2 separate regions of the Homo sapiens genome follow, and region 1 is linked to region 2. Evidence: fine-mapped expression QTL. A gene starts in region 2. The other region holds a variant in brackets. All regions are shown on one strand. Distances are from middle to middle.

Region 1 (10,451 bases), 610 kb before region 2:
CTGGGTACATACCCAAAGGAGTATAAATCATGTTGCTATAAAGACACATGCACACGTATGTTTATTGCGGCACTATTCACAATAGCAAAGACTTGGAACCAACCCAAATGTCCAACAGTCATAGACCAGATTAAGAAAATGTGGCACATATACACCATGGAATACTATGCAGCCATAAAAAATGATGAGTTCATGTCCTTTGTGGGGACATGGATGAAGCTGGAAACCATTATTCTCAGCAAACTATCGCAAGGGCAAAAAACCAACACTGCATGTTCTCACTCATAGGTGGGAATTGAACAATGAGAACACATGGACACAGGAAGGGGAACATCACACACCAGGGCCTGTTGTGGGGTGGGGGGGAGGGGGAAGGGATAGCATTAGGAGATATACCTAATGTAAGTGATGAGTTAATGGGTGCAGCACACCAACATGGCACATGCATACATATGTAACAAAACTGCACATTGTACACATGTACCCTAAAACTTAAAGTATAATAAAAAAAGAAAAAAAATCAAAAGAAAAGCAATATTTTGTGGCATGTAAAAATTATATGAAACCCAAATTTCAGTGTCCACAAATTGCTGTATTGGAACACATCCATGCTCATTCATGTATGTATTGTTCATGGCTGTTTTCACACTACAGCAGCAAAGTGAGTAGCTGGGAAAGAGACCGTGCAGCCCGGGAAGTCTAGAGTATTCACTATCTGGCCCTTATAGAAACAGTTTCCTGACCCTCACCCTAGAGTAGCAGACAGGCAGGAGGAAAGGAAGAGTCTAGCAGTTCTCACGCTGGCTGCACAATAGAATCACCTGTTGATTTCTCCAAGCAGACCCCCCGCCACCCATAATATTTCTTGAATGGTTTGGGGTGGGGTTTTTTTTTTAAAACTTCCTGGTGATTCAAATGAGAGTCAGGACTAAGAACCACTGGGCTAAGGGAATAAATACATGAAGGTCTGAATTTCCCAAATGTTAAGCAAGATGGTTGCAGGACTGGCCTGCTTTTCCCAGGGAATCTTAGTGGATTACAGCCTTTCTTGAGGAAGAAAGGTACCCAGTGATGAGATTTGGTTGAAGATGGAGAGGGGGCAAAAGACTAATTGTTTCTCACTGTAGTATGATTTATAAGCTAAGTTCCATTTTAACCTCTCTAAACCCTTGAACCGTTGTTTCAAACATGTATCCCTGGCATTATCCGCATCTCTCAGGCAGGCACACCTTGCGCTATGTAGCACATAGCTTTGCAGGGACCCCTGCTGGGTCACTTCTCAGGATACACCCCAACGGGGAACCCTTACGCCATCTGTGCAGCATGCCCTCCATAATTATTGGTGGTCTCGCAGGGAAGGAGAAAAAAGACAGCTCTATCAGAATCCCATTCTCCACTAGCACAGTCAGCACCATTGGCAGAGGATGGCTCTGGGGCTGCAAGGCTGCTCTGAGCTATTATTGTGCCTGGCTCTCTCTCAGCATGACTCAACGCAGACAATATAGCACACCGAGAGCATGGGGGATGAACAGTAAATACGAGGCCTTGGATTTTTTTTTAATCTTGTCAGTTTTTCCCTGATTTGTGTCCTTTATCCTATCCCCCTCTGCTATATAAGCTTCTCAAAGCTAATGCCCATAACGCCACCACCCACTGGTAGCAGCAGGCTGCTGGGCCACTGTGGGGTTCTCATTGCAGAGATTTACAATGCCCGCCATTATTCAGCAACTGTACGTGTTAACCCAGTGGCACAAGGTTGCTCCAACACCTTCCCCTCTGGTTTCTCTTTACTCGGGAGGCCAACAGCGACTATAGGAGTGCCGCCCTCCTGACTCGAACTGCTTGCCTCAGTGAGCACACATCACGTCCTCCAACCTGGCAGAGCTGGAATAGGCCCCGCTGAAAGACAGGAACGTTGGGCAATTATGAAACTGAGATGATGCTTGACATTTGTACTGCCACATTAAAAAAGTTAAAAATATTTCTCAAAGGTGTTTCTTTGGCCTCTTGTAGATATCTACCCTCCATCCCCTTCTTTCTTCTACTAAGAGCTGATGTGATTACATCTCTAAAATGTGACCTTGCTGCAAGGCTGCTGGGAGTGATCTCAACAATGAGCCTACAGGCTACTGTGGCTGTTAGGAGGTGAAACAGTGCCATACATTTTGCTCCCTCGAAACAACTCCCTGGAACAAGTTACTAATTTCACACTTCTATTAATTCTAATCAGTTTCAAGGGTGATTTATGGCTCCCATTTAACTAAGAAATGTGCCTATTATCTCTACCTTGGCTACTGTGACGTCTACCTCCATGCACTCTCCCGTTCCAGAATCCAGTAGTGGAGGCAGCAACTGTCTGGAAATGCGTTTGCCTGTGTATAGACGATTTACTGCTTCAGGAGAAATAGAAGAAGCACTTGGGGGATGAAGATGCGGTCACTCTCATGAGCTTTTCTGGAGAGAAATATGCATCGGCTGAGGACACCTATGTTTGGTTTTGTGCGAAGGGTTTACAAACTGAAATCACAGAGGTTACAGGAGAAGAGCAGGTGAAGGAAAACATCAGGTAGCTGCTCCTGGTGGGTAAACGTCTGCCCAGAAGAAAGCTGGGAGTCTTGGGGGTCCTCTTAACATGGAACGTGAACTTGTGAGACACTTTTTTTTTTTTTTTTTTTTTTTTTTTTTAGGCAGAGTCTCTCTGTTGCCCAGGCTGGAGTGCAGCGGCGCTATCTCGGCTCACTGCAACCTCCGCCTCTGCCTCCCGAGTAGCTGAATTACAGGCGCCCGCCACCATGCCCGGCTAATTTTTGTATTTTTAGTAGAGATGGGGTTTTGCCTTGTTGGCCAGGCTGGTCTCATACTCCTGGCCTCAGATGATCCACCCGTCTCAGCCTCTCAAAGTGCTGGGATTATAGGCATGAGACACTGCGCCCAGCCCGTGAACACTTTTAAGTCACCAAATACCTGGCATGAACATTATTAGCAATTTATCAAATCATGGGGGCCTGTTTGGGGTTATGACATATCTGACAAGAAGGAAAAGGTGATGATGGAAAAGGGACTGGCCTCCCAGGTTGGCACTGTCAATCCAAACGTGGGATCCCAAGAATGCCCTGCAGTTTCAGGTGCAGATGCCTCCTGCGTGGTGTTCAGGGAAGTAAGCTCAGTTCAGAAAGAACAGTCATGCTTCTTGCAGAACACCAGTACACTCAAGCTTTTGTATTTGTATTCAGTGGAGGGTAACCTACTCACCCCATCTTTGAATATGTGCAAAAAATAGAGAAGGAGGCAATAAAAGATAAATAGGGCTGCCATTAAACAGAACCAGAAAGGCTCCAGATCCATCTGAGATGGGCAGAACATGTGACATGTGTGAACATCAGGAAGGGGCTGGGGGAACTGTGAAGATCCTGCAGCTCACAGATCTGTTTCGCATGGTCTCTACTCCTTTACATAAATTTGGCACAGCAAATCAAGGAAAGGGGAGGGTTTAACAGACTCCTGGACCATTCCAGATAACTCACTCCTTCCCACATATTGTGTATTTGTTCTTATTTCACTGTGTAAGAATGGTTGTGTTCAAGAGGTTTTTAAGTCAATGTTTCTTTGATATGGTATATGCTCTTACTGGGCATCCACCAAGAAGATGTACCTAGAACATGTACGGAGATTCTGCTATACTTTATTCCATATCATGTTACAAGAAAACAACAGTGACAGCTGACAAACCATTACATCTTTCATAATACAGACAAATTACAACTGGTAACAAATATGCAACATGTATTATTCCATTCTCCTTACTATGTGTCATTTGAAAGTATAATAGTTTTCTGAATAATGCTACCACATTTCTTAGGTACCAATCCCCTGTTAGAAAGTACACATCTCAGTGCATCATACAAAAAAAAATAAAAGATAAAAGGAAAACTTTAAAAATCCACTCCCAACTAGAGAATGTAGGTTTTGTATGTGCCTCTAAAATATGCTGCTGTGGGAAAAGGAATGAGAATAGAAGATTGCTTATTTTATTGATTTTTTTGGTGTGTTTTTGGTGTATGAGAAAAGTACAAGGCAGTAACATATACAGTTTCCTCTGCCTACAAGCCAGTAAGGGAGATGGAAGTTATGCGCAATTATGCAGCATATTCCTATGTATAAGGGGCAGGCAATAATCTACCCCAGTATATACAGCCTAAACATCCTCTTATATAACAAAGATTACAAAACCAATAATATTCACAGATGAGTATCATATAGACGCATAACCTAGGGTATTGATTATACTGGCTGTCATATACACACTGAGGAAAGGATACCAAGAGGCCTCACTTTCTTTGCAAGCCTGGAGGTGCTCCTAGAAACTTTCTAGTCACTCTTGCGAGGTAGAAATCGCTTCTCACCCCAGAATCAGTGGATGGACAGCCACCCTGCTTTATGTACCCTATTTTTTGCTGAGTACTGCAAACATTTTTTTTCACATCCTATGTATCTCATATTTTTAAGTCAACAAAACTGTTATTTTAAGAAAATGGGAATTAAGTGTCAAATCTCCTTTCAGAATACTGTGTGTGCAGTGATGTGCTAAGGTGTTTGTACTATTCTTACCATCTGTTTGAGTTCAGGCTATTCCTTCATATAAAAATAATCTCACAAAACATTCCAGTGCTTTCTCAATAGAATAATAAATCTGCTAATCAA[C/T]ACAGTCTGAATTGATTTTCATGACTGCCCACAAGGAGGGCAGAAGAGAAAAGAAGCAGAGGGAGAATATGATTGCAAATAGGGGAAGGAGAGAGGGAGGGAGGGAGTGAGAGGGGTTTGGGGGGAGAAAGAGAAAGAAAGAGACAGAGAGAGAGAGACACCAAACTTTGGATTTCCTGTATGGGTGGCAAGGATAGGTACTCAAAACCTCCTGACCTTCTGAGAGGCATGTCTCTGTAACAAAACAGATTTCTCCGTCCACTGAGTAATGTTATATTTCACTTCTCCGAAGAAGCTGCCTACGACAGGGAGATATAACTCTAATAGCCCTAATTGAAGTCTTTCAACATTAAATATTTTCAAATTTTCAAGTTAAAAACCTTATTAAAAAGCAACATTTAATCATCAGTTGCTCTTGCTTTAAACTTAGTGAAATACAAAGGTCATGCCTCTTCTCCAAATGAATGATTAAAAACAAATCACAGGAAAGTCCATTTTTAATTGCATGTAAAGTTTTCTCCCTATGTTTTCTTTAAGAAATCCTAATTTAAGTATACTTTAAATCAAAATACCTCTAAAGACTTCCAGTGGGTTGGAATGTATGAAAGAGGAATGGAAAAGATTTCTAGGTAGCAAACAGTAGACATTCTACACTTGGGTGTTTTCTGCTCTCTTTAAAACCAATCAGTAAATAATTCCTTGCTTAGCACTTAAAAGTTTACCATGAATGCTACATCTGGATAGGATGAACTATGACTTTGACATAACCATCCATACTCCACTCCGCAGACAGTACCATTTTAAAGTTTAGGAATTCTGGATCCAGTTTCCTTGGTGTATTGAGCTTGATTATAGAAAAGCTTTACCCTCACCCAACTCTCAGAAAAAGTCCTTGTCAACCTGGCTCCTAATTCCTAGTCTTGATCCTAAAACAGTATGACACATTTCAAGCACTCACTCATTCTCTCCTTCTTTCTGACTAATAGGAAAATGTAAGACACTGTACACAAAGGTATTTCCATAGGAATTTGTGTGTAGAGGAGCTAGGTTTCATGCTTTAGATGAAGTCTCCTAACTGTCCCCTTGGCCGCAGTACTACTGGGCATTCTGCAGCGAGGCCTGCCCCACTGGGAGCCGGCCTGCATCAGGCAGCCCTCCCTCCAGATCAAAGCAAAAGACATGCCTGGTCCACTTTTCTCCAGTGTCACATACTCGCCTTCATCCTCCAAGGTCCCTCAACTCCTTGAGTAAGGGAAGCTGGCCCATTCCCTTTTTCATCTTTAAAGCAAGATTCCTGCATTGTTTCTAAAACCTGCATTTGAACAGTTATTCCAGGAGATGTCTTAAAGTAAGAACCCAATGATGTCTTCCAATTGGCTTGGAATGTTTTTTTAAAATGTATTTTTTTTAAAGGTGCTTTGTTGTAACTAAGCAAACTTTGAACTGGATCACTTTGTAATTTACTTTGTAAGCCCTAACAGGCCAAGACTGCTTTCAAGGCTCATCCAGCAGATATAGTTCTTTTGCACCAGATTTAAAACATTCTGTTCCTCACTCTTTTCTCCAGTTAGAAAATACAAAGTGTAACAGAATGGATGGAAAAAAATTAGATGTTGACAAGACCCAGACACAAAAAGTTACCTCAATCTCCAGAGGTTGAAATGTAAGCAATTTATCCCTGTCTTTGTTCTTAACGTTTGATAATTGTTTTTTCAATTCCAACCTATTCAAAAAACAGTCATGCTATGTGGCTTGAAAATGCTAAGCAGAGTCCAATATCCTATATATAAATGTGCAGTTATTTCCAAGTAAAAAAACCACATTTGCAAAATTACCTCAAAAGGTAAGCAACAGGTGGGGCCCCACAGTCCGGGGCCAAGTTGTCAAGTCAGAGAACAGGGGTTTGCTTTAGCAGAAAATTTCCTTCCTAGTGGTTGCAAAATGTGCACTGCTCTCAAAGAAAACACACATTGTTTTATGCCACTCTGTGGCTTTCAAGTTCAGACATTACTGAAGAAGTGTGAACACCAAATGTGTTGTCTTAATGTATTTAAGACATGGCTGGTGAAAGCATAAAAACCTTTACAGAGACGCTGTGCTGCAGAGGGAAATCAAACAAAATCAAACACAAAAGACTGAAAAGAATACATGCCATGTATCAGTAAGCAAAGCTTAATCTTCACGTAGTTCTTGGAAATCACAAGGTATCCAAATGCGTGCAAGGTTTTAAATAAATTGCAGAGAAAACAGGGTCTTGCCAGCTTCAATTTTCTTGTAAGTGAAATCCACCACAGGGAGCGAAAGAAAACTGATCCATGATTCCCTTCATATTATTGGCCTCTTCATTAATGTTTTTTTTTTCTTCCCAGAATGATGACAACTTAATCCTGGAAGGAGGAAAATAGAAAATTGTTATATAAAAAATCTACACCATTCATTTCTTCTAAATTACATGAAACATCAAAATTGGTCAGTCCAAAGTGAGTCCACTGATGTTCCCCACAGCCACTCCAAACACATAAATATGAAGCAGAATAGCCTCCTTAACCAAAAAAAAATCCTTCTAATATGATAAACAAATGTTCTGACTACACTTTCCTCTCTTAAAATCATTTAACTCCACCAACTGAATTGGTCTATCTTCCTCTTGGATATTTAGAGAAAAAGAAATTCAGCAAATTTCCTTCCCTAAATCATTAGTAGCAATACTGGTCTTAATTAAGTGCCTGTAGCATCATACAGACCATTAAAAGGACGTATCATTATGTTCATTTTTATGAACATGAAATAGAAAAACGGATCACAAACACGCTTTTAAAAAAATTCAGCTGTATATAATTCCTTGGTTGCCTATTATCATTATTTCAGTTCCAGCAGAATGAAAATTGGCCAGTGTGACCTGAATTGGCAGCCTCTTCCCAACATCCTGTATAGGACTGCGTGTTTCCAATAATGCCTGCTTAAAACAATAACAACTTGTGGGTGAATGGTTCAAGCAAAAAGAAGGAAGCTTCACTCTGTCCCTTTCCGTACTTCCTTTTGGCCCTTAAGCATTTTCATTGAGTCTCCAGGATGGGAAAAGAATGCCTTGCCAGGATGGGTGGAAACACTCCCAGGTTCAAGGCACATAGCTGAGGGATCGGTTCATTAGCTGCACTGAATCCCAGAACCAGTTCCTTAGCTAAGTTTAGAAGCTGCTGGTCACTAAGGCCTGGTGAGGCCTTCATGTCTCCAGCTACAGGGCCATAGAGTCATCTTCCCAGATGCAGGGGGAACCCTGGATGGTGCCTGATCCCAAAGGTTTTGTCCTTTTTTTGAGACTTCACAGTGCACCTGTCCTGCTGCTGCACACACAGGCTGTGGCATCAAGGACATCACCCCTGCATAGCAGCAACCCAGCAATACCTTGTCCAGATAGCAGAAATTCCACTCCTATGCTCAGGAACCATTAAAATAGTGGCCGGGCACGGTGGCTCATGCCTGTAATCCCAGCACTTTGGGAGGCCGAGACGGGCAGATCACGAGGTCAGGAGATGGAGACCATCCTGGCCAATATGGTGAAACCCCGTCTCTACTGAAAATACAAATACTAGCCAGGCGTGGTGGTGTGTGCCTGTAGTCCCAGCTGCTTAGGAGGCTGAGGCAGGAGAATGGCATGAACCCAGGAGGCAGAGGTTGCAGTGAGCCGAGATTGTGCCACGGCACCCCAGCCTGGGCAATAGAGCAAGACTCCCTCTCAAAAAAATAAAAAAAATAAAAATAAAAAGAGCATTCTCTCCACCATCTGCTCATTTCCCCCACTTACTATGGTGAGTTTCTGGCAAGTTAACTTTCCATTCTTTTTAAAAATTGAAGCAAAATTTATATAAAAAATTAATCATTTAAAAGAATATAATTTAGTGGCATTTAGTGCATTCACAATGCTGTGCAACTATCATCTCTATTTAGTTCCAAAACATCTTCATCACCCCCAAAGGAGATCCTATATCCTTTAAGCAGTCACTCCCATTCTCTCCTTGTCCCAGCCCCTGACAACTATTAATACTAATGTTTCTGTCTCTATGGATTTACCTGTTCTAGATATACAAATGGAATCATATAATATGCTACCCATTTTGTCTAGCTTTTTTCACTTAGCATGATGTTTTTGAAGTTCATCCATGTTGTAGCATGAATCAGTACTTCATTATTTTTTAGGGTTGAATAATATTCTATTGTATGAATATACCACAGTTTGTTTATCCATTCATTGGTTGATTTATATTTGTGTTGTTTCATCTTTTGGCTAATAGTGAATAGTGCTGCTCTGAATATTCATGTATAAGTATTTGTTTAAACACTGTTTTCCATTCTTTTGGGTATATATCTAGAAGTGGAATAGCTAGGTCATATGGAAATTATATGTTTAACTTTTTGAGGAACTGCCAAACTGTTTTCCATCATGGCTGTACCATTTCACATTTCCACCAGCAATGCACAAGGGTTCCAATTTTGCCAAAACATTTGTTTGTTTAAAAAAAATTATAGCCATCCTAGTGGGTATGAACTGATTTGCACTTGCATTTCCCTAATGATCGATGATGTTGGGCATCTTTTTTTTTTTTTTGACTGGGTCTTGCTCTGCCACCCAAGCTGGAGTGCAGTGATGTAATCCTAGCTCACTGCAGCCTTGACCTTCCTGGGCTCAGCTGATCCTCCCACCACAGCCTCCCAAGTAGCTGGGACTACAGGCACACATCACCATGCCTGGCTAATTTTTTATATTTGTAGAGACAGGGGTTCACCATGTTGTCCAGGCTGGTCTTGAACTCCTGGGCTCAAGCCATCTGCCTGCCTTGGCCTCCCAAAGTGCTGGGATTACAGGCATGAGCCACCATGCCCAAGCTGTTGGGGACTCTTTCATGTGGCTGTTGGCCATATGAATATCTTCTTTGGAGAAATGTCTATTCAAGTCCTTTGATCATTTTTAAATTGGGTTGTCTTTTCGTTGTTGAGTTGTAGGAGTTCTTTACACATTCTGGTTAATCCCTTATAGTATGATTTTTCTCCAATTCCATAGGTTGCCTTTTCACTCTGTTAACTGTGTCCTTTGATGTACAAAAGTTTTTAATTTTGGCAAAGTGCAATTTATCTTTTTTTTTCTTTTGTTGCTTATATTTTTGGTGTTATATCTAAAAATCCATTGTGAAATCTAAGGTTATGAAGATTTACCCCTATATTTTCTTCTAAGAGTCTTATAGTTTTAGCCCTTGCATTTAGATCTTTGGTCCATTTTGAGTGAAGTTTTGTATATGGTATGAGGTAGGGGTAACCTTCTATTCTTGAGAGTTCTCTGTCCTCAAAAACAAAAGCCTTAAGTTTCCAGGAGAGGCCTGGGGGTAAATGGATACCACACATAGGCCCTTTGCTACCTCTACATCCCAACAGTTATTATCTCAAATCCTTGCTGCTTGTGGGCAGTTCTCCATAAGGCTCACTTGACCACTCCTCATCCTTGCTTGATTGTGCAGATATACCTTTATCAAACCTCTTCTTAAAGAAGTCACCACCCTAGCAAAAATAATTACATGGGAACAAACTCCTTTGTCCCCAGCCTACCCTTGTTCTTTCAGGGAAACGAAGAACGTGCTCTACATGCTGCTCCATGTAACTATGCATTCTGATCTAGGCACTGGCATCTTTTTGAGGACCATGACATCAAGAAGAGAAAGCACTCATCCTCATAGTACTTCAAGCACATTTGTCCACAG
Region 2 (10,451 bases):
AGTTAAATTTTGTGTCTGAACATTTAACCTTATATTTCTCTTTTCTGACATAATGAATTCGTCACATGACAACTGGACTCTAGAATTACACAGTTACAGCACAAGGTAACAAACCCCAAAGTTCAGTGTAATCACAGCCTCTTCTTTTTATTTAGTTCCCTCACAAACCATGTCCTTTAAAGAAATGGTATACATGGTGTTCATCTCAAATATCGCAGAGTATAAACTTCCTTTCTCTAGGAGACAGTCCAAATAAGTATGAAGCAATGCATTCAAATGAATATGAAAAAATGTCAGTTTGACCTTAATCATACACCGGATATTACATAAAGCCTTTCTCCTTCTAGGCTAACATTCAAAAATAAAAAAGAAACAAGAAAGAAAAGAGGAAATGAACTTTAAAATACTTAAACTACTCAATAATTAAATTCCCATTTGTCTTTGTTAGCCTAAATTTTAAAAAAAAGTGTGAGACAACTGTAGTAATTCCTAAATAAGGAACCACGCTGACACTATTTAGTAGAAAACCATAAATACTACCGAAATTGATGGGTGACTTTAAAATTCAATTACACTCATCTTATAAAAGAACCATAACTATATCATAGTCATTCCCTGGCAGATGTCATAAATTAGAGCACTATGGCTTGAAAGCCATGTGTTTTATAATATAGTAATCTCAGCTCAGCTGTATTTGGGGTGGGCAGTGACAAAGTCAGCATGATCTCTAATGTGTAAACAAATTAAACATTAGCACTGCTTTATGTATTTAGAATTATTATTATTAATGATAAACACTGACCAGACATCAGATACTTTCAAATATTTCCTCATTTTCAATAGATGAATGATTAATAATTTCTTACAGCTAAATAATAGTATTGTACATTTCACCATACAACAAGCTACACTTTTGGATAATACTAAAGCAGCAAAATAAAGTCAGCATGTCTATTTCAAAAGCTTAGATTGGTTAAAGAGAATGAATATGTTGCAGTGTGGATTATTCAACAAGAATAAACCATTCACTCTTCGATCTCCTCATGAAGTACCAATGAAGAAAGGAGGATGATGGGGTATAAACAGAAATTGCAAGGAACAATGACAGCCTATGGTATTGACCTTCACCTTGTGATAGATACTGCACTAGATTTTTCAGGTGTTTTATCCGATTTAGTCTTCACATATATTCACCGTATATGAATATTTACAGATGAGGACTCTGGGCTTTAGGGTAATTCCACCGGCTGCAAAATTCCACTGGCACAGAGCAAGCAGCGAAAACCCAGTTCAAATCCAGGCCTGCCTAACTCCGTTTTAAGGCTGGCTACACTACAAAGTCAATGGCCACTTCCCTCTTCTCTTGCTTTCTATCTATAAGATCAGTTATGTCAGTATGATGGAATTCCTAATAATAACAAAAACAATGATAACATATCTTGAACGTTTACTGAGTCTTTATTTAATGTGCCACACAAGACATGGTATGCATTATTTCACTAAAAGCCAACAACGAAACTGAGTTGTACATGAAAAACTGAAGCTCAGAGAAGTTGAGAGACCTTGGCTGGGCATGGCAACATGGGAAACAGTCTGTGTGACACACAGCCCACATTCTTAACTCATGCACTATATAATCCCACAGTAAGCCCTCAACTCAACAACCTCTAGCGCCTTAAAAATCCTTAGATAGGCCGGGCGCGGTGGCTCTCGCCTGTAATCCCAGCACTTTGGGAGGCCGAGGCGGGCGGATCACGAGGTCAGGAGATCGAGACCATCCCGGCTAAAACGGTGAAACCCCGTCTCTACTAAAAATACAAAAAATTAGCCAGGCGTAGTGGCGGGCGCCTGTAGTCCCAGCTACTTGGGAGGCTGAGGCAGGAGAATGGCGTGAACCCGGGAGGCGGAGCTTGCAGTGAGCCGAGATCCCGCCACTGCACTCCAGCCTGGGCGACAGAGCGAGACTCCGTCTCAAAAAAAAAAAAAAAAAATCCTTAGATAATCAGAATGAGTTCACTGGTTTTAATTTTGCAAATACAATATAAAACATCAAGAAAATAAGAAGATACAGATTTTGTTTCTGTAATGCTACTTTGAATGTCGTTGGCTTGGTATACAACTATAATCACTTCAATATCTCCTATTACAATACTCCATAATGAGATCTACGATTCAGAATCATATTTTCCATCAATACAAGAAATAATCAGCTGTGCTCACTGCACTGCATTCTGTGTCCTAAAGGGAGGATATAAAATCCACCAGCTCTTAGAAGACATTTTAACAAGAGTTGGATTCAAAAGGAGTTTCACATCACTAAATCTCAGTAAGCTAGAAAATCCAATTAACTATAATACCCCCATTTGCCAGCACTGTACTTAATCCAAATTTTACTGATTGTCGATCAAAACCTTGAAATTATTTAAATATAAGGAACTTTTAGATTAATGTCCTTGGTTTCTTACTGAGACTCAATTGCAATGAATTATTTAACACAAAACTGGAGGGGCTCCAGCAGAATCATTAGCATTAGTAAATATATAGTTAATGTGTTTTAGAACACGGCTTAATGGACTCCAGAACCCGCCTCTGCGACGGTTTGGGTCAGGGTTGAAACATCCTCGTTAATAATGCACACGACTCAACATTTCCCTCTCTCACACTCTTCTTGGCTTCAAACTTCATCTTAATGCAGGGACTCTCCACATGTATCCCTAATTCTGAAGAGTGAAATTAATATCCAATACATGCAATAAATAAAACTAAAGATTGGTTTCATACCATAACTTTACAGTCATCTGGGGAAAGATTTTGCATACCAACACAAAATTTTAAGTCGAAAGACAAAAAAAAAAAAAAAAACTTGGCTAAATTTCGATCCATTGTACTCTCTCACTTGAAGAAAGTTTGCATATCTTACAATGAATGGGTGGAAGGATATCTGTAACACTCATGTGCATCCCAGGGTTTTATTTTAAGGAATTAAGTACCTTTATGTTTAATTTCCATTAACACTTTCGTTAACATGGATGACATTTAAAACAAGTGAAACAAAGACTAGGCAGCTTCCTAGGGACTCGCAGGGGTTATCTTTTGTGTCTATAGCATTCTCTTGCTCAGGGCAGTTACATGTTATTAGTGAAAGTTGTGACAGTAGGGGAGGCAGCTAACTCTTCAGGTTAAAAGGGGTTTTCTATGCCCAGTACTCAAAATCTAACAAACCCATTCCACGTGATACTGCTGTCACCCTATTACAACCTGTGACATGCATTTATTCGTCACTGTCCTAAACACTGTTGGTCAGTTGGTTTGTTGTTTGGTTTAAAGACAACAGCCCCTGAGCTCTATTAAATGGAACAAGTTCGAGAGACATTCCTAAATGTCCAGACAACTCCACAGCGCGCATTTCTCTCCAGCAGCGGGAAGATTCAGAGACCTCGAGACTGAACACCCAAATCTCGCTTTCCAGGACCCGAAGTACCGAACAATAGGTCCCAAGGTAACTGTCCCACTTCCCTTTAGGTTGGATACGTTAAACAATACCAGGGCACAGTCTAACGTTTCACCAATTTCCAAAGCTAAATTACTGACTAAACGCCCAATATCCAAGCCTGTGCGCAAAAAATAACAAGTGGCCCAAGCAGCCGCGCAGCCCCTTGCGCGGTGGGGGCCGAGGGGTCCCCTCGCCCGTCCCCCACGCGCGCGAAAGGGCGAGCACTAGTGGCGGAGGAGGGGAGAACCCATATTGTAGGCTTGAGAGAATCTACAAATGAACCCCCAGATCCTGAGGAAGAGGGGTCTCTTTCCTTTACGTCCTTGCCCTCCCCCGGGTCCCTAGCACTGTGCCCTCGATCCCCGCCTACAACGCACCCCACGCCAGCCCCGCTGGCAGCTGCATGGCTGGTGCCAGGAACGCGGCGGGGGCGCAGGCCGAGGGGAGCGGGCGCTGGGGGGGCCGGGGGCAGCGCGCTACTCACCAATGCGACTGAAACTCTCCGACAAAGTTCTCCGCAACTTCTTCATCTTGCCGATCTTCTCGGCCGGCTGCGGCTCAATGAGGTCACACATCTGGGCGACGCGGAGCCCCGACAACTTCCCCAAACTGGTCCAGGCACAGCTCAGACAACGGCGAGGGCGCGCGCCGCGGGGAAAGCGGCGCCTCCTCCTCCACCACCTCCTCGGCGGGCCGGGAAGCGACGCGCAGGTCTAGGGAGGCGAGCAGCAGGCAGGCGGAGGACGGCAGGCTCCGCTCCGGCCTGGGCCGCAGCTGGGCGGGCGGGGGCGGTTTACGTGGTGCCGGGGGCGGCCGCGCTCGCCGCCGCCGTGGTGGCCCCGCGCCGCGCCGCCGCCGCCCGGCTCATTTTCCCTCCTTTGTAACGGAGAGAAGCGCGGCCGGCAGGGGGAGTGGTGCGGCCGAAGGAGGAGGCGGGGCGGGCCGGGTACAAGGTGCGGGAGTCGCCTGGCGCCGAGTGCGCGGGGCGAGGGCGAGTGGGCCGGCGGGAGAAGTTCTCAGCCCAGAGTTGCGGGCGCAGCGCAGAAGGAGCCGCGGCGCGGAACCGCCAGCCTGACAGCTCCTGCTGCCCTCCTGCTGCCGCCGCCACGCCCCTCCCTCGACGAAGGCCCCTGGGCGCGGGATCCTAGCACGACCTCGGCTCCCCGCTCGCCTCCCGCGTCCTCCGCGGCCCTCTGTGTCTGGCTCGCGCCCCGGCGGCGCCCCCTCCCGGCCGCGCCCCTCCCGGCCGCCCCCGCGCTCCTCCCCCGCCCCGCCCGCGCGCGGGAGGATCACGAAGGGACCGGGGTGGGAGCGGGCAGCGTCTGGGGACAGCGTGTTGGGCTGTGGGGAGGTTACCGAAAGGAAACGGGCCGAGTCCAGTTGTTTGAGCGGTTTTCTCCTTCCACGAGCGTGTGTGAAAAAGCGCGGAGTTCGGTGGAGGGCAGCTGCCAGGACTGCCTCCTGGACTGGGTGCGGTAAGGCCTTAGGGATGCATTCAGATGTAGGGTGCCTTATTTTGGGCCGAGAAAGCTGTCAAGTGAAAGATCCAAGGGGAAAGGTGGGCCTGGATTTTTTTGTTGTTGTTTGCGGTGGGTTTTTTGTTTGTTTTGAGGTCAAGTGCAGAAGCAGCGGAAGCTTCAACTGTAACCCTCCAGAAGGCAGGGATCATGCTGTTTCCCTCATCCTTGTCTCTGATCTTGGTGACACATGTAGGTGATTTCTGATAGGAATACCCAGTTCTGCAGTAAATAGCAGACACAGCCCTTGGTCTTTTTCTATTAAATTCTTAGAATATATTTCTGAATTGGGAGATTTAAAGGCTAAACAGATTCCGACCTCCTTTTCCCCCACCTCAAAAACAGAACTTTAAAAAGGAGTGGGGGAGGTGTTTATAAAATCCCAGGACAAACAGTTCCAGCAGCGAACACACATCGTCTTCATTCTGAAAAAACCTGGTGCGGCGTGAGTTCCAAACGTCAGTCTCCCAGGGGAGAGAGAAGGAAGGTGGGGGAGGGCTTGATTGTGTTGATCTGAGGCCAGCAAACTCCTTATGAATAGAAACGTTAGTAATCTTGAGTCATTTGGCTGTGTAAGTAATAAGAGCTTGTGAGGGTGTGACAATGCTGTTTGGCTTGTAGGAAATTTTGGGGAGTTTATGTTTTGTTAAAAGATTTTTATCTTAAAAACTAGCCCCCTGCCTTCCTTAAATTGTGAGGTAAAACAGTGATTTGTTCCGCCCTACACTGAGCACATTGTAGGATCTTGATAGATTGCGGATGATAAAAGACAGGAAGTCAAGCTAAGTGGGGAGCAGAGGGGGGCAAGGAATTCGCCAGGAAAGACCATATGAGTTAAAACGCAAAGCTGTTGGATCCTGGCTGCCATGTCTAGATAATTACAGACAGCACCAAGGGTGGCCTCATACCGGAAAAAAGTTTGACTTTTACCACTTCCTCAGGTTAGTTAGGGAGAAAGTTTTCAGCAGTTATGAATGAAAAGACAAATGCAACCAATCAAAACACTAATGGGTTGTACGAGTCAACAAACACGAAGAAATATTAATTTAACGAACTTTCACTATTATACACCTGTGACTGTTATCCACTGTGACAATGGCTGTTTCAAATATATAATATGTTAAATATATGTTTATTTTACCTTCGCAGTATTTTTTTTTTTTTTTCCGAGACAGGGCCTGTCGCCCAGGCTGGAGTGCAGTGGCGCCATCTCGGCTGACTGCAACCTTCTCTCCTGGGCTCAAGCCATCCTCCCACCTCAGCCTCCTAAATAGCTGGGACTACGGGTGCGCACCACCACGCCTGGCTAATTTTTGTAGAAACGGGGTTTCATCATGTTACCGACGCTGGTCTCCTACTCTTGAGCTCAAGCAATCCGCCCGCCTTGACCTCCCAAAGTTCTGGGATTACAGGCGTGCACCACCACCATGCTCTTCCCCTTCCCAGTATTTCTGACTTAAAAAAAGTAGTCAGCTTCTTCTTAAATTATGGTAAAAGCATACAAAGGTATGCACCAATTTTCTTAAATGAGATCAGTGTGTACTGATGTGTGAATATGTACAGGCTAATTTGGGAGAAAAGCATGTTTAATATTTTAAACCATTTGTGGAAAAAATGTATACACATCTATGTGTTCCTATATGCATAGAATATTTCTGGAAAAAAGAACAGAAAACTGTTGATTGTATATCCAGAACAGAGAGAACTTTTCCCTTTGCAATTTATACCTTTAAGTATAGTTTGAATGTTCTAAGAATGCTTTACTTTTATAATAATAAAAATACTAATATAAACATAATGAATATTTTCCTTTTCCCTACCCCACTTCAAAACTTCAGCTCTCCCAACTCCAGAACAACTTCCTCTAGTTACAACAGTATACCTGGCAGGAGAAACACCTGTTAAGCCTGGGCCAAATAAAGCTTGGCAATTATGAGTAACCAACTTTCCATTATATGCTCATCTTGCTCCCTTTCCTGGTTATATTTTAAAAGAGCAAATTTTGCAAGAAACTGCAATGCAAAGAAGGACATTTTTAACTTGACGCTTTTAAGATATGTATACTTATTCAACTCTTTCTACTATTATTTGTTTCACATTTGCCTTCATCTTAAACAGTGTAAGTTCAGGGACCCTAAGATATGAAACACACAGTGCCTGTTGCATAGAGAATGTAAATTAATGTTTGTCAAATAAATATAGAATGGATTGCTATCTCTGAGAAGTGATGTGTTGTCCTTGGAAACAAAGATGACTATCCAGCATCTGTGTAGCATGTTTTTTCAGTAGGAGAATGGATCTGTGCCAGTTCTCCATCTCAACTTCTGGTTTACAAGGTTATAGTTTTGCATGGCCTGAATTAAAGGTGCAGTGTTCAAGTACAAAGAGATAAGCTTATCTAGAGGCTGAACCCAACATGGGTTGACCTTAACCAAATTCACCAATTAAAGGATACAAGTGTATTGGAGTTCAGTAGTAACAAAAGTGGCTGGGGACCCAGGACTCATGAGTTCTAGTCCCTACTGTCTATCACTAGGTGCATTGTAGCCTTAGACAAGTAAGTGATTTACCTATTTTCTTATCTATAAAATGAGGGGCTTGAACTAGATAACCTCTAGGTCCATTCATAGCTGCAAAATTCTAATTCTAAAGTTAATGGTGAGCCAGAAGCAATTACCCATACCTACAGTCTCAGCTACTCAGGTGGCTTAGGTGGGAGGATCTCTTGAGCCCAGGAGTTTAAGACCAGCCTGGGCAACACAGCAAGAACCCATCTCTAATAGATAAATAAAATGTAATGATGAAATTTTCCCTCTTCCATCTTATATACTATAGATAGATATATTAATGAAGAGTAAGTCATACACAAATAAGATAGACAAGGATTCATTGCCAAAAATTATGTGAAATTTAAGATACATCATTTCTAGTCACATTACATATACATTATGCTTTTATTATAAAATAAAATGTGGATATTTTCCACATAAGAAAAATATCAGGCTAGTATGCTGGTAGTAGATTATAAGGGAAAGAATCCTAATTTAAGTAAGATAAAATATAAAGGATTTAATTAGAATCCAAAATTCCAGCAAAAGCAGACTTATTGATCTGAAACAGTTTTTAAAATATTATCAGAGAAAAGAAATCCATGAAACAAGGATACCAAGAACATGAAGAATAGAGCTGGAAAATGAGTTTCAAAAAGATATGTTTATAATGTAAAGTTTTAGAATTTAGCCAAAGCATAGATAGTTAAAGATTAAGACATAGTGCCAGAGTATAATTATTAAAGTGGTAGACATTTACATTATTAAATATCCTCTTAGAGCTCTAAATAGTCAACCTATTTAACTAGTTTTAGGATCAAATTTATCCTTTTTGAACACATCAGGAACTGAAGTAACACAAGGTTAAGTGACTTGTACAAAGTTCTCAGTGAGTCATCAGTAAAATTGGTACATTGACTCTAAAACTCTTGTCACCAACCCTTATGTTCCAACTATTGGACAGTATCCAAACTTAAAGAGTTCTTTTTTTTTTTTCTTTGACAAAGAGCAAATTGAAATCAGAAAGGGGAGTAAAATGGAAGGTTCCAGAAACCAGTGTATTCACAACTCAGGTCAATGAAGGCTTCCCTCATCTCTCCTCCTTGTTCCACCACCCATCCTTTGCCTACTCCTTCCTAATTCAGAGCCTTTTCACGTTTACAGAAATCACTGTCTGCTGACACAAAACCTCCAGTCTTGTTCGAAAATGAGACCTACATTTGCTTATTTTATAGGTAATTGTACATTTTTTCATCCTACATCTCAAGAGACCAAGGGACCTAAGTAAATTGATCTACTTGCCAATGACTGTAAGAAAGACAAAGAAGTTGTAAAAACATCCAAATGATGTTAAACATAAATTAGCTCAGAATAGTTTGCAGAAGATAAACTACCAGCGTCAAAGCATGCATTAAAAACTGGTAAGTTCCCCTCTCCCATTAAACCGTGCTTAAATATGATAATGCATATCATTCATGTTTTTTATTGTTACATAACTTGTACTATAGGCATTTATACGAGAAAACATCTAACACTATTCTAAGATACAGTTCACTTAATAATGCTTTTGGTATTACTTGTATTTGTGGTACAGATGTGCCATTAACTGTGGGTCCTCAGTCATGAATGGCATCAATTTCAATGTATCATGTTGCATTCATCAAAACTAAACTTCAGAGACCAGCCCTGTAATTGAACCCTGGACATGGATGTGAAAGTGGACAGAAACTAAAACCTTAGTGAACTAAAACCTTATGGCTTTTGTGCAGTCCAGACAAGTCCTGTTAAGGACAATTAAGTTCAGAAATGCACCTTTTCTATCAAAAACATCCTAGTCTTTCCTCCCAGGCCCTTTGACAGTTCATCTGCATTCACATGTCTATTCTAATCAAGCACTTACAAGCCAAAAAAAAAAGTATCTATAGAAGTCATATTGATAGTATCATTGCACATATGACATTCTCTAGCTAAAATAACTCAATATTTATAACTGTACAATGTTACTATTATAACTTGTGGTTTTATAATAGGCTATGAATTAATGATCTCATTTTATCTTAACTCATACTACCCCAAGAGGCATTATCATTATCACTAGGTTACACAAGAAAATGGGCCTAGAAATGCCAAAAGTATGTGCCCAAGATCATTACACAGGTTCCAGTTCTAAATTGACACACACTTGTTTACCAAAATGTTTCCTTTTATAAAGCATTTTGATTGCATGATGGTAGTCACTTCTTTTTCTTTTGATATACTTTGGTATAATCATGATTGTCCTTATTGTATAGAAAGGAACTCTTCTGAAGCAAAGAGAGTTCAAGAAAGTGGCCATACTCAGACAGGTTAATAAATGCATCCAAACTTTTAACTTACGACACTGTATTTTGCTTTTTCCTACCTTATAGGAAAGAAATTAAAAGTGTGGTATTGAAAGATGTACAACTGACTTTGGAAAAAGGATTCCTCTCTAATTGGTGTTTGTAAGTGATCGAAATAAACATTTTTAAACTATCATTTGTGGAATCATTGCTACATACTAGGCAATTGAAGACCTCCACTTTCACCATCACCCTATGAGTTGTCTTTTATGATCCTATTTTACAGGTGAAAAAACTAAGGTCCATTGAAATCAATTTTTTTTTTTTTTTTTTTTTTTTTTGAGATGGAGTCTCACTTTGTCGCCCAGGCCGGAGTGCAGTGGCGCGATCTCGGCTCACTGCAACCTCCACCCCTGGATTCGTGCGATTCCTCTGCCTCAGCCTCCCCAGTAGCTGGGATTACAGGTGCCCACCACCACACCCAGCTGATTTTTTGTATTTTTTAGTAGAGACGGATTTCACCATGTTGGTCAGGCTGGTCTAAAACTCCTGACCTCAAGCAGTCCACCCT

Alleles and levels. Alleles are on the strand shown, and positions count from the first base shown. SD is a standard deviation of normalised expression in the study named.
For the expression in skeletal muscle of the gene that starts at base 4,375 in region 2, C is the low allele of the variant in region 1 and T is the other (small effect, 0.26 SD a copy in GTEx).

What was found. PIP is the estimated chance that this variant, and not a neighbour inherited with it, causes the effect.
Region 1: its variant is fine-mapped to the expression of CDK14 in skeletal muscle (GTEx, PIP above 0.99).

What each region holds. Positions count from the first base shown.
Region 1 is chr7:91,203,802-91,214,252 of GRCh38, reverse strand. CDK14 (cyclin dependent kinase 14) reads right to left here. Exons shown (of 15, transcript NM_001287135.2): 15 at 3,663-7,088. Among named protein-coding and RNA genes, the nearest start is that of FZD1, 55 kb to the left of the region's middle. The variant C/T (reference allele first, on the strand shown) is at 4,702.
Region 2 is chr7:90,590,245-90,600,695 of GRCh38, reverse strand. It overlaps CDK14 (cyclin dependent kinase 14), which reads right to left and starts at 4,375. Exons shown (of 15, transcript NM_001287135.2): 1 at 3,978-4,375. The coding sequence starts at 4,068. RefSeq lists silencers at 3,738-3,787, 3,848-4,047, 4,238-4,547, 4,568-4,767.